3 linked regions of the Homo sapiens genome follow. The protein of the gene in region 1 interacts with the protein of each later gene in a pairwise test. Each region holds a gene or a part of one and is shown on either strand. Other genes may lie near its edges.

Region 1 (3,754 bases):
CTCTCTCTCTGTGGGCCTCAGTCAGGCAGCCAGGCGAGATGGTATCTCAGACGCCTTCCAGCTCCATCACTCAATGTCTCTATCAAGAAGAGAACACAGATCTGAAAACATTTTTCCCCCTAACACTGAGTTGGGGTTATTATTCACATACAAAAACACAGGCACCAACAGAGATAACTGGTCAGGAAATAAGGAGCTTTGATTCTGGTCTCATACTCTTTGACCTAGTAATTCTACTTCTGTGAATTTATCTTAAAGAAAGAATCCAGAGGACAGAGCTGTGTGCACGAAAAGGTTTGCTTTCGCAATATTTGGAGTTACTGTCAATAAAATGATGTCCAATGCAAGAATGCGAGAGACTCCCTTGGTGGCACATGAGGCCACCGCAAGTGATAATTTCAAAGACACAGAAAAACATACTTGGCAGTGTTTTTCAAATTGCAGTTCAACCTCCATTAAGGGGTCATGAAATAAACCTAAGAGGTGTCCTGCCACCAACTTGTTTTTGTTTATTTTTTTGAGATGGAGTTTCGCTCTTTCACCCATGCTGGAGTGCAGTGGCACGATCTCGGCTCACTGCAACCTCCGCCTTCCAGTTTCAAGTGTTTCTCCTGCTTCAGCCTCCCGAGTAGTTGGGTTTACAGGCGCCCACCACCACGCCCAGCTAATTTTTGTATTTTTAGTAGAGACGGGCTTTCACCACGTTGGCCAGGCTGGTCTCAAATTACTGACCTCGTGATCTGCCCAGCCTCCCAAAGTGCTGGGATTGAGAGGTAAAGCCAGCTGGACTTCCTGGGTTGAGTGGGGACTTGGAGAACTTTTCTGTCTAGCTAGACAATTGTAAACGCACCAATCAGCGTTCTGTGTCTAGCTAAAGGATTGTAAATGCGCCAATCAGCACTCTGTAAAAACCCACCAATCAGCGCTCTGTGTCTAGCTAAAGGATTATAATGCACCAATAAGCACTCTGTGTCTACCTAGGGATTGTAAATGCACCAGTCAGTGCTCTGTAAAAACGCACCAATCAGCGCTCTGTGTCTAGCTAAAGGATTGTAAATGCACCAATCTGCACTCTGTAAAAATGCACCAATCAGCACTCTGTGTCTAGCTAAAGGACTGTAAATGCACCAATCAGCACTCTGTAAAATGGACCAGTCAGTGCTCTGTAACAGGGGACAAATAAGGGAATAAAAGCTGGCCATCCCCCAGTCAACAGTGGCAACCCACTCAGGTCCCCTTCCATGATGTGGGAGCTTTGTTCTTTTGCTCTTCACAATAAATCCTGCTGCTGCTCACTCTCTGGGTCCGTGCTACCTTTAAGAGCTGTAACACTCACCGTGAAGTCAGTGAGACCAAGAACCCACCTGAAGGAACCAACTCCAGACACAGGATTACAGGCCTGAGCCACCGTGCCCGACTTTGTTTTTTTTTAATTAAATAGGCAAGAATACAAAATAACAGAGTGCATTACAGGAGGTAAAGGTACTTACTGTGAAACTTTGGTTTTGGTTTCATGGGTAACTGGGCCATGGTATAAAATACATTTTTTTATCGTAGGGTCACAGTCAAAACATTTCAAAGGCCGTGGGTCTATGGTGTACAGTATAGTACGATTACAACAATGTAAAATACTGTGTGTGAGGCCAAGCCTGGGAGGAATAAACAGAAGCAAAGAGGAACTGATAAAGTTGGTAGAATAAAGGATGCTGCTTCTCAGTTATATGTTTTCTGTGATGTTTGTAGGTTGTTCTTACAATAAAACAAACCAAAAAAAAAAAAAAAAAGAAGTCAAGACACAAAGGAGAAATAACAATAGAGGGCCATTATCAGATTCCATTGGCCGAGAAGCTCAAGGCTCCAGCACCGGCCTTGAAGGATGGACAGACTTTGAATGGGGGGCGTGGCCTAAACAGGGACGGGGTTGTTGCTGAAACACAAAACACACTGAAAGAGAACATGGGGTTAAAAAAGGCTCTCAGTGATGCAAAGCGGCTTAAAACTGGGGAAGAAAGGGGCAGGTCTACTCCCGGGCTGTACATTCTGCCTCCCTGTACCGACTTTTCCACCCTCCACCCATCTAGGCTGAGGTCTCAAGCTAGAGGTTGCCCCTCATAAACATGTCCGCACCAAGCCGGCCGCGCCCCTCAACAAGATGGCGACGGCAGCAGCCCCACCTCCCGCTGACTCGGTGGCCAATGAGGGAGAAGCACGAAGACTTGAGCATGCGCACATAGCGACTTGGTGGGCGCGTCCAGTGATGACTGGGGGATCCCGGCAAGTAACATGACTAAAAAGAAGCGGGAGAATCTGGGCGTCGCTCTAGAGGTGAGGGGAAAAGTGGGGGTTGGGCCACCTCGTTAGTTGCCTTCTCCTGGCCGCGGGATAAGGGATAGGCTGGGCTATAGATAGGAGGAGGAGCCAAGCGTAGGATGAGAGGGCGACGCGGTTTGGGGAGAGGGACGGGAGGGGTGAGAAGGCCCACGGGGTTCCCGGAGGACAGGGAGCCCGAGGAGGTGCCGGATGGGCGAACCAGACTCTCTGGAGAGGGCATCTCCAGAGAGGAAGAGACATGGAAGTGAAGGGGAGCCCCAAAGACGGCCTGGCATAGAAGTGAGGGAACTCAAAGCGGGGGACACAGAACAAAAGGGATGGGTACAGAGGTGAGGGAGACCCCAGAGAAATAGGGACCTGTAGAATCTAAGGAGAACTCCCAAAGGGCTAGGACTCAAAGATGAGGGAGCCCATTCTGGTGTATATTATTAATGGTTTAAATATCCTCTAAAAGGGGAAATTTTTCCTCCGGAGTATGGAAGCTTGTACCTTCAAAATTACTTTGGGAATATGTAAAGAGAATTCTGGAATTGGTGATGTCACTGAATGGCTTAAAAATAATTTGCTGCATATAGAAGGGAAAGAAAACATACATACTGAGCAACCGCTATGTGCTACTTTCATTGCATTGTTAATCCTCACTGCAAGCCTGTGAGGTTTGTACAGATGAGGAAATTGAGGTTCCAGGTGGAACCCAGGCTGAGATGGTGGAAGTGGTGGAGCCTGGGAATCAAGCACAGGTGGTCTTCCTGGAAATTCATCTTGCTTCCCCTGTTTTCCTTCCCTTAGGGCATCCTCCCGGAGGTTGCAGGAGAGGTACAGGGTCATAGTCTTCTTCAGGCTTACTAGTGAGTTCAGTGATTCTCAAACTTTAGCATGCATAGAGTCACAGGGCTTGTTAAAAATGGAGAGTTGAACTCTTCCCACACCCCGAGTAATTCAGTAGGACTTTGATGTGCATTCTTAACAAGGAATCTGCTTTTTTTTTTTTAAGACAGAGTCTCGCTCTGTTGTCCAGGCTGAAGTGCAGTGGCGTGATCTCGGCTCACTGTAAACTCTGCCTTCTGGGTTCAAGCGATTCTCGTGCCTCAGCCTCCCGAGTAGCTGGGATTACAGGCACGTGCCACCATGCCTGGCTAATTTTTGTATTTTTGTAGAGACGGGGTTTCACCGTGTTGGCCAGGCTGGTCTTGAACTCTTGACCTCAAGTGATCTGCCCGCCCGCCTTAGCCTCCCAAAGTGCTGGGATTACAGGCATGAGCCACCACAGCCGGCCAGAATCTGCATTTTTTTTTTTTTTACAAGCCACACACACCCCATGGTGATGTGGGTAGTTTTAGTGGCATCCCTTGAGAAATATTGGCCCACTTGGTAGGAAAAAGGTTGATGGAAATGTGAAGAGGATGGTTTATGAGTGGTGACT
Region 2 (3,754 bases), on another chromosome or scaffold:
GATCTCCTCCCTCCTCTCTCTGATAATCTCCAGTTGTTTTGTTCCCCTCTATGTGTCCATTTGTTCTTAGCATTTAGCTCCCACTTATAAGTGAGAATATGTGGTATTTGGTTTTCTGTTCCTGTATTAGCTTTCTAAGGATAATGGCTTCTACTTCATCCATGTTCCTGCAAAAGACATGATCTCATTCCTTTTTATGGCTGCATAGTATTCCACAGTGTGTATGTACCACATTTTCTTCATCCAGTCTACAAATGATGGACATTTAGGTTGATTCTATGTCTTTGCTATTGTGAATAGTGCTGCAATGAACATTCACGTGCATGTGTTTTATGGTAGAATGATTTATATTAAGATCTTATTCTTAACCCAATCGATAGTTATGGCAGAATACAGCATCATTTTATGTGTTTGTTTATGGTTCATCTCATGCCATCTCCCTCATCAGTTATAAAAGCATATAAGCATTTTACAACTATTTTGTGTAGGAGGGTACTATGAATTAGGAAGTTATCTTGCCCAACATTCAGAAGTCCAATGTAAGCATTCTGTGTGTACTTTAGTGATACATATTTTTCAGCTGTAATGATTGAGGTGGTTGTTTTGTGACCCTTATATATATACAAACTTGAAGTCCTTTTTGTTAGAAGGCAGAGTATAAGTTAAAAGCTGATACCACCTGTTCACAGGTTGAGAATTCCGTACATTATCAAAGTCAACTCTCGCAATGTTAATATAAAATTAAAATTATTCCCATTTTTACAGAAGTGAAAACTGAGGTTCCCACTACAAGGTCATGCAACTAGTAAGTGATGAAATCTGGATTTGAATTGGAATCTTCCATAGTGCTTAAACTCTGAAAACTGAGGTTCCCATTACTAGGTCATGCAACTAGTAAATGATGAAATCTGGATTTGAATTTGGATCTTCCATAGTGCTTAAACTCTACCATGCTATGTTGGTACTCAGAAAGACGTCTTCTATATAGTACTATATAATGTGGTGATTTGAAAAATATTGGACCTTAGAGTAGAATGTTTTTAGTAAAATCTGAAATGATTTATAAGCCATATGAGTTTGGGTAAGTTTCTCGGTCTCTCTATACCTCAATTTTTTTCATCTGTGAAACGGGAATAATAATAATATTATAACAGGATTAAGTATATTAATACATTCACAGCATCCAGACAGTGCTTGGCATATAGTAATAAGTACTAAATAAATGACACCTACTATTATTACTGGAATGTGACTAAAGCCATTATTCTTATAAAGAGACCACTGCTCAGAGAAACCATATGTCTGGTTGCCCTTGACTGACTTGAAGAAAGGCAGGGACTATATATCAGTGCATGCAAAATGAGAAAGAAATTGCTCTTTACCATTCCAAAGTTAAGTGAAGCACCAAGGCCTACTACAATGACCCGATGATGTCTACTACTCCAAGGCAAGACAGAATTGAATATTGTACAAACTCTGTTACTCTGCCCTGGTGTCCCATTTGTGGAGAGTCATTGTAATGTATGGACAGAATTGAACCCTTCTGTAACACTCAAAATTTTAGTAGCTAGTGGAAAAAGGGAAAGCATGAAGGCTTTGGATTTCTTTTCTATCACAGCCATAAACAACCCCAATGGCCTCCCACGAAGTTGATAATGCAGAGCTGGGGTCAGCCTCTGCCCATGGTACCCCAGGCAGTGAGGCGGGACCAGAAGAGCTGAATACTTCTGTCTACCAGCCCATAGATGGATCACCAGATTATCAGAAAGCAAAATTACAAGTTCTTGGGGTAAGTCAGCCTTAGTTTAAACACTGATTTAAGAGGGAAGAAAATAAATACAGTTGACCTGTGAATAACGTGCGTTTGAACTGTGAGGATTCCCTTACATGTGGATTTCTTCCACCTCTGTTTGCCATCCCGAGACAGCAAGAACAACCCCTGCTCTCCCTCTTCTTCCTCAGTCTATTCAACGTGAAGAGGATGAGGATGAAGACCTTTATGATAATCTACTTCCACTTAATGAATAGTAAATACATTTTCTCTTTCTTATGATTTCCTTAACGTTTTTAGTTTCTCTAGCTTATTGTATATAATATGTCACATACAAAATATGTGATAATCGACTGTTTATATTAATAGTAAGACTTCTGGTCAACAGTAGGCTATTAGTAGTTAAGTTTTTGGGAAGTCATAAGTTTTACGTGGATTTACCACCATGAAAGGGTGGGCATTCCAAACCCCAATGTTGTTCAAGAGCCAACTGTATCATGTAGAAAACCTTGCTTATGCTGAGAAGGAGGAAATTCTGAGTTATTTATCACTGACTTAATAATGATTGGAGAAAAGACAGGGACTTCTTATAGATCTGGGGAGCAGAAATGCAAAGGCATTTTCTCATGGTAGAAAACATCAAACCTTGGAGAACAGATTCCAAGACCCTTCATTTTTTGTTTTGTGCCTTTTGACCAGCCATTTGAGGAGGCTGAGCTCTATGAAGCTTATATTCTATATTTTAAATTTAAAAATTGGGTTGAGAGAAGGGTTAAAAATTGGGTTGAGAGAAAGGCTGAGTAGGATATGGCTTATCCTCTGTCTGCCTTCATCATATTATGATGCAAAAGCATGCTGGGAAGAGACTTTGACTCCATCTACCTTACCAATCATGTCTGTTTTACTGTCCTGCCACTTTCTGAGAGGAGTTCGTGAGAATGAACAGAAATGTGGGGGAGAGGTGAAGACAAAATGCTGCCACTGGAATTGGTGTGGATAGCGTGGAATAAAAAACTCTTTCAGATAAGCTCTCGTTCTGTTAATTTAGGCTTGACACTTTAACCATTTCAAGCACCGACATCTCCTTTCTGAGGAAAATTAAAATGGCCTGTTTTCAGTGTCCACTTTAGTATATGACTGTTACGCCTTTTTCCCCTTTCTTCTTTCAGGCCATCCAGATCCTGAATGCAGCAATGATTCTGGCTTTGGGTGTCTTTCTGGGTTCCTTGCAATACCCATACCACTTCCAAAAGCACTTCTTTTTCTTCACCTTCTACACAGGCTACCCGATTTGGGGTGCTGTGTTTGTGAGTATTCGTACTCCCCTGGCTATATGTTATTTCTTAGATACCACTGCTGGAGATGTGTTTGATGACAAAAATATTGTTTGTAGGTTATTGGAAGGTTGCATGCTGTGGTTTTGATTTGCAATTCTTGATATAAACAATTAGAGACGATAAACTCTTTTTTATTTTTTAATTTAATTAATTACTTAATTAATTTATTTTTTGAGACAAAGTCTCGATCTGCCATCCAGGCTGGAGTGCAGTGGCATGATCTCTGCCCACTGAAACCCTCTGCCTCCCCAGTTCAAGTGATTCTCTTGCCTCAGTCTCCTGAGTGGCTGGGATTACAGGCATGCACCACCATGCCCACCTAATTTTTGTTTTTGTATTTTTAGTAGAGACAGGGATTCACCATGTTTTCCAGGATGGTCTCGAACTCCTGACCACAAGTGGTCCTCCCAGCTTGGCCTCCCAAAATGCTGGAATTGCCAGGCATGAGCCCTGATGCCAGGCCAAAAATCTCTTTCTGATTAAGAGAAACCACATTTGCCAAGTACAAATGAAGTCCTAAAAATTATCTTATATATAACTATATGTTACATTTATAGATACTTAAAAAATTGAATGAAAAATGGGTATTGATGAATTGCCTTGTGGTACAGCAGAGAGTCCTGGCTTGAGAGTTAAGAAATTTGTC
Region 3 (3,754 bases), on another chromosome or scaffold:
AGGTTAGGGGTGGGGATGAGAGTCAGAGTCCGCACAGTGGATTGGGCAGGGAGCCAGATTTCAGCTCCGTTGTTGTTTTTCTCTAGGTAAACCACCGCAGAGCCCCGACCCTCTGTGATACCTGCTCAGTGAGACCAAAAGGTCTCGGATGCCAGAGCTTTAGGAAATGACAGCGACAGGGAATGTCACCATGTTTCCAACATGCAGATACAGCCCAGGGAGGTTACCAATGGCATTCCTAAGATTAGAGTTCAAGGTAGAATTAGGGATGAGACTTCAGGTCTCTGTCTCCATGTCTGCCAAGTGCTCCTTCTATTTTTTCTTGCTCAGCCTGGTGAGCACACTATAAACTCACCCCCTCAGGCCTTCCAATGAATATATTTCCTGCATGTGTGGTCATCCATTCTCTCCCAAGAATGTATTGGAAAGAAAGGGGGCTTTAAGTCCTCTCCCTGTAAGTTATCTCCCTTTTCTCCAGCATGGAAATGCAGACTTAGAGGAAATATTAAATCAGCTGTTTGTATATTCCTTGAATTTTTAACAGACAACCTTTGAATCAAGTCTTTAAAAATAACAGCAATGTGGCTTTCCTGATTGTAAAATTAAACCTGTTCACTGCAGAAGACTTGGGAAATATGAAGAGCACAAAAATCCAATCCCCCTTACCTAACCGACAAGAAGCAACACCTGCTAACCTTTGAATTTCTCTTTTATGACTATTATACTACATAATTGAGGTTAGATTCTATATAATTTTGTAGCCTATATTTTTCCATTGGTATTAATGAAAGACTTTAATAACACCTTCCTGTGTTATTCAAAAGTTTTCAGAAACATAATCTTAATGGCTTCATACTATTCTATTATGTGAATATGCTATTATTATTTACGTAGTCATTTCTCTACTGTTGTGTATTTAGGTGATTTCTAGATTTTTGCTATTATAATTAATAATCTAAGGAATATTTATATATGATAATTTTGTTTTGCCTTCTTGATTATTTTCTTAAGATAGATCCCAATAAGTAGAATTACTACATCAAATAAAATGAATTTTTAAAAAGCTATATCTTCTCATTTTAAAGGATTTTTAAAGGAATTGTTGAGTCAAACTATCTTGGTAAACTTTGTCAAATTTCCTATTAGAATCAAGATATATGCGGAGAAAAACTTCAGTTGCAGATTGCAGTACTAATTTAAATGTTTCCTGTAGTCTTTCTACAGGAAAGGTGGGGTGGGGTCAGGGAAGGAAAAAAAGGGATGGGGGGAAAGGAAGGGAAGGTAGGAGAAGGAGGGAAGAGGGAAGAAAAGTGGGAGGTGGGAAGGGGATAGGAGAGGAGGGGAGGGAAGAAATATCTCCATTAGAAAGAGTTTTATTTTTTGAAGGCAGCAGTTACCTAGAATTTAAAAATGTTTCAGAGACAAATGTAGCTAAATAAGATCAGGTTTACCTCTATCTAAACTCCAACAAATACCAGGGATTTTAGCTATTGAAACTCTATAATTTCTCTGACTTAGAATTTAAAAATTCTTTACAACTATAAAACTAAAAGGTATGTATGATGTTTCATGAAATTTGAAGATGGGGGACACAGAGAGGTGATGACTCCCCCCTCAACAGCCCCGTTCCCCTAACCCCCATTTTCAGGAGTTGGTGACAATTACTGGTTCTATTATGATGCTCTGGCAAGTACTGTGGAGCAGAACCTAAGAAGGGAGTAGAGGAAGGGAGGCAATCTCCAAGCCCTGCAGGGAGCTGGGGAATGGGCAACAGATAACCTGATTTGAAACCATGCACATAGCAACAGGAGCAACAGCGAGGTCCAGACAAGCACTGGCCTGGTATCACTGTTTCTCTACCTGGTAGGGGCAAGCATAATTTCAGCAAAATGAAAGGTAGCAGTTGCTCACTCAGACTCCAAATAAAATGGTCTCTCTGAGACCAAAAAATATAGTTGCCCAGAGAGAGTAATGGTTGAAGGCAAAAGAGGAATTGAGCTCTCTGAGAGAGCTGATAATGTAAAAGAGGAACCTAGAACAAAAACATGAATAAATCACAAAAACTTTGTCCACTGAACTCGTGTCTACACACTCTGTCCCAGCCATACTCAGCTACCAATTTAAATATCCTGCTTTCCAGGTCTCTATTAGACCTGCACTCTATCCTTGAACTTTACCTTGTTGGTTGAACTGCAATCTCATTGTTTATCTCAGAGCAGTCTTCCCTCACCCCACCTGGAGGGGGAATTAAATTCCAGGATCCTTTGCACTAATTCGGATGGCCCTGGAAACCCATTACCATGCACTGCTGTGATGCTGTGAATGGCCATTCACTAGAAGCTCATTGGCCACAACTGGCCCTGTCTTTTCCAATGTCAGCATTGATGTGGATCAAAATGGAGTTTGTTAATTCTCAGATGGGTCATTTAGATTTCAGGGCCTTTCTTCAAGAGGTCCAATGCCCACCTCCTCTCTGGAGCTGCTCCGTTACACTTGCCACACTCTCTCCCTACTCCTGGGAGCCTGCAGTGTCCTGAATGGTCAAGGGTGTTACTTTTTTAAAAAACTGGAAGAAATCATAGTTTGAATTGGAGGCAAATAAAGAATAATTCTCAAAATAAAAGCACATAGCACAAGCACAAGACACTGTTACTATTATTGTTGCTGAATTAGAGTGAGGATCATGAGACAGAAACACCATCAAACTTAGATAAAGATATTCAGTCTATCAAGTGTTGATGCCATCAAGGTAAGGTGAGGTTTCCTAACTCACAGCCTTGTTTATTCCCTCAAAGGGCTATATATGAAGGCAAATAAGACTGATTTAGAGGTAACTAAAATATAAGGTATTAAGTAAAATGTTTCATATGGGTTGTACAGATATATTCCATAGGAGACAAGAGGAGGGACATCCTGCCCAGCAGTGATGAATGATCAAGGAAGACCTCAAGATAGGGCAACTGAGTTAGGCCTTGAAGATTAGATAAGATTTTTAGAGAAGTTGATTAAAAAAAAAAGAAATGACCTTTCAGGTAGAAGAAGCTGTATGACAGAAGCATGGAAGTCAAATGTTGCAAAGTGCCTCAGGTCAATGACAGACTGATTCAACCGAAGTGAATTCACAGGTGAATCAGGGAATGAATTGAGGAGTTGCCCAGAAAAATATGAGAATACTCTATGTTGAATTTGACATGAAAATATAACGATTAGTTGGAATGCCCGACAAGAAACTTGAGAAGTGAGGCTAGAGAATGACAAGCCAGGGATCAAAGAGACAATATCAGCAGAGAATGGTAAGAGGAAATAAAATTAGATGGCAGTGAAGGGAATGATCTCTTTCCTCATCCATCCGTCCATCAAACCACTATTGAGCACTTACTGTGTGCCATATTCTGAGGCAGTAAGACATTGCCTTTGCCATTGTGTCTCAGTCTTTGGAGATTAACAAGGTCACGAACAGCATATAACCCAATGCAATCAATGCCATGCAGAGGGAGCAGAGTTAGAGCAAAGAACTCCCTTGGGAATATGGGAAAGACTTCCTGGTAAAAGGAGAAGAAGAAGGAGAGGGAGGGCAGTAGGGGAGAGAGGATGGAGGGGAGAGAAAAGAGAAGGAGGAGACAGAATGAAAGAGAATGAAGAGAAAGAAGAGGAGGAAACGACAAAGAGGAAGAGAGGCAGCAAGGCACAGGGAAATGAATGTGGAGTTTTGTGTTTTAATTAACTTCAAGAACACTGGATTGGGAATACTCAT

What was found.
Region 2: the proteins of CCDC167 (region 1) and MS4A3 interact in binary tests that used the Homo sapiens proteins (3 or more experiments, as listed by UniProt).
Region 3: the proteins of CCDC167 (region 1) and TACR1 interact in binary tests that used the Homo sapiens proteins (3 or more experiments, as listed by UniProt).

What each region holds. Positions count from the first base shown.
Region 1 is NC_000006.12:37,498,393-37,502,146, reverse strand, and holds the start of CCDC167 (coiled-coil domain-containing protein 167), read left to right. Parts: upstream 1-2,253; 5' UTR 2,254-2,283; coding exon 2,284-2,325; intron 2,326-3,754.
Region 2 is NC_000011.10:60,059,528-60,063,281, forward strand, and holds part of MS4A3 (membrane-spanning 4-domains subfamily A member 3), read left to right. Parts: intron 1-1,618; 5' UTR 1,619-1,633; coding exon 1,634-1,789; intron 1,790-1,995; exon of another isoform or gene 1,996-2,027; intron 2,028-2,940; coding exon 2,941-3,078; intron 3,079-3,754. UniProt on the Homo sapiens protein: Hematopoietic modulator for the G1-S cell cycle transition. Modulates the level of phosphorylation of cyclin-dependent kinase 2 (CDK2) through its direct binding to cyclin-dependent kinase inhibitor 3 (CDKN3/KAP).
Region 3 is NC_000002.12:75,192,917-75,196,670, reverse strand, and holds part of TACR1 (substance-P receptor), read left to right. Parts: intron 1-3,754. UniProt on the Homo sapiens protein: This is a receptor for the tachykinin neuropeptide substance P. It is probably associated with G proteins that activate a phosphatidylinositol-calcium second messenger system.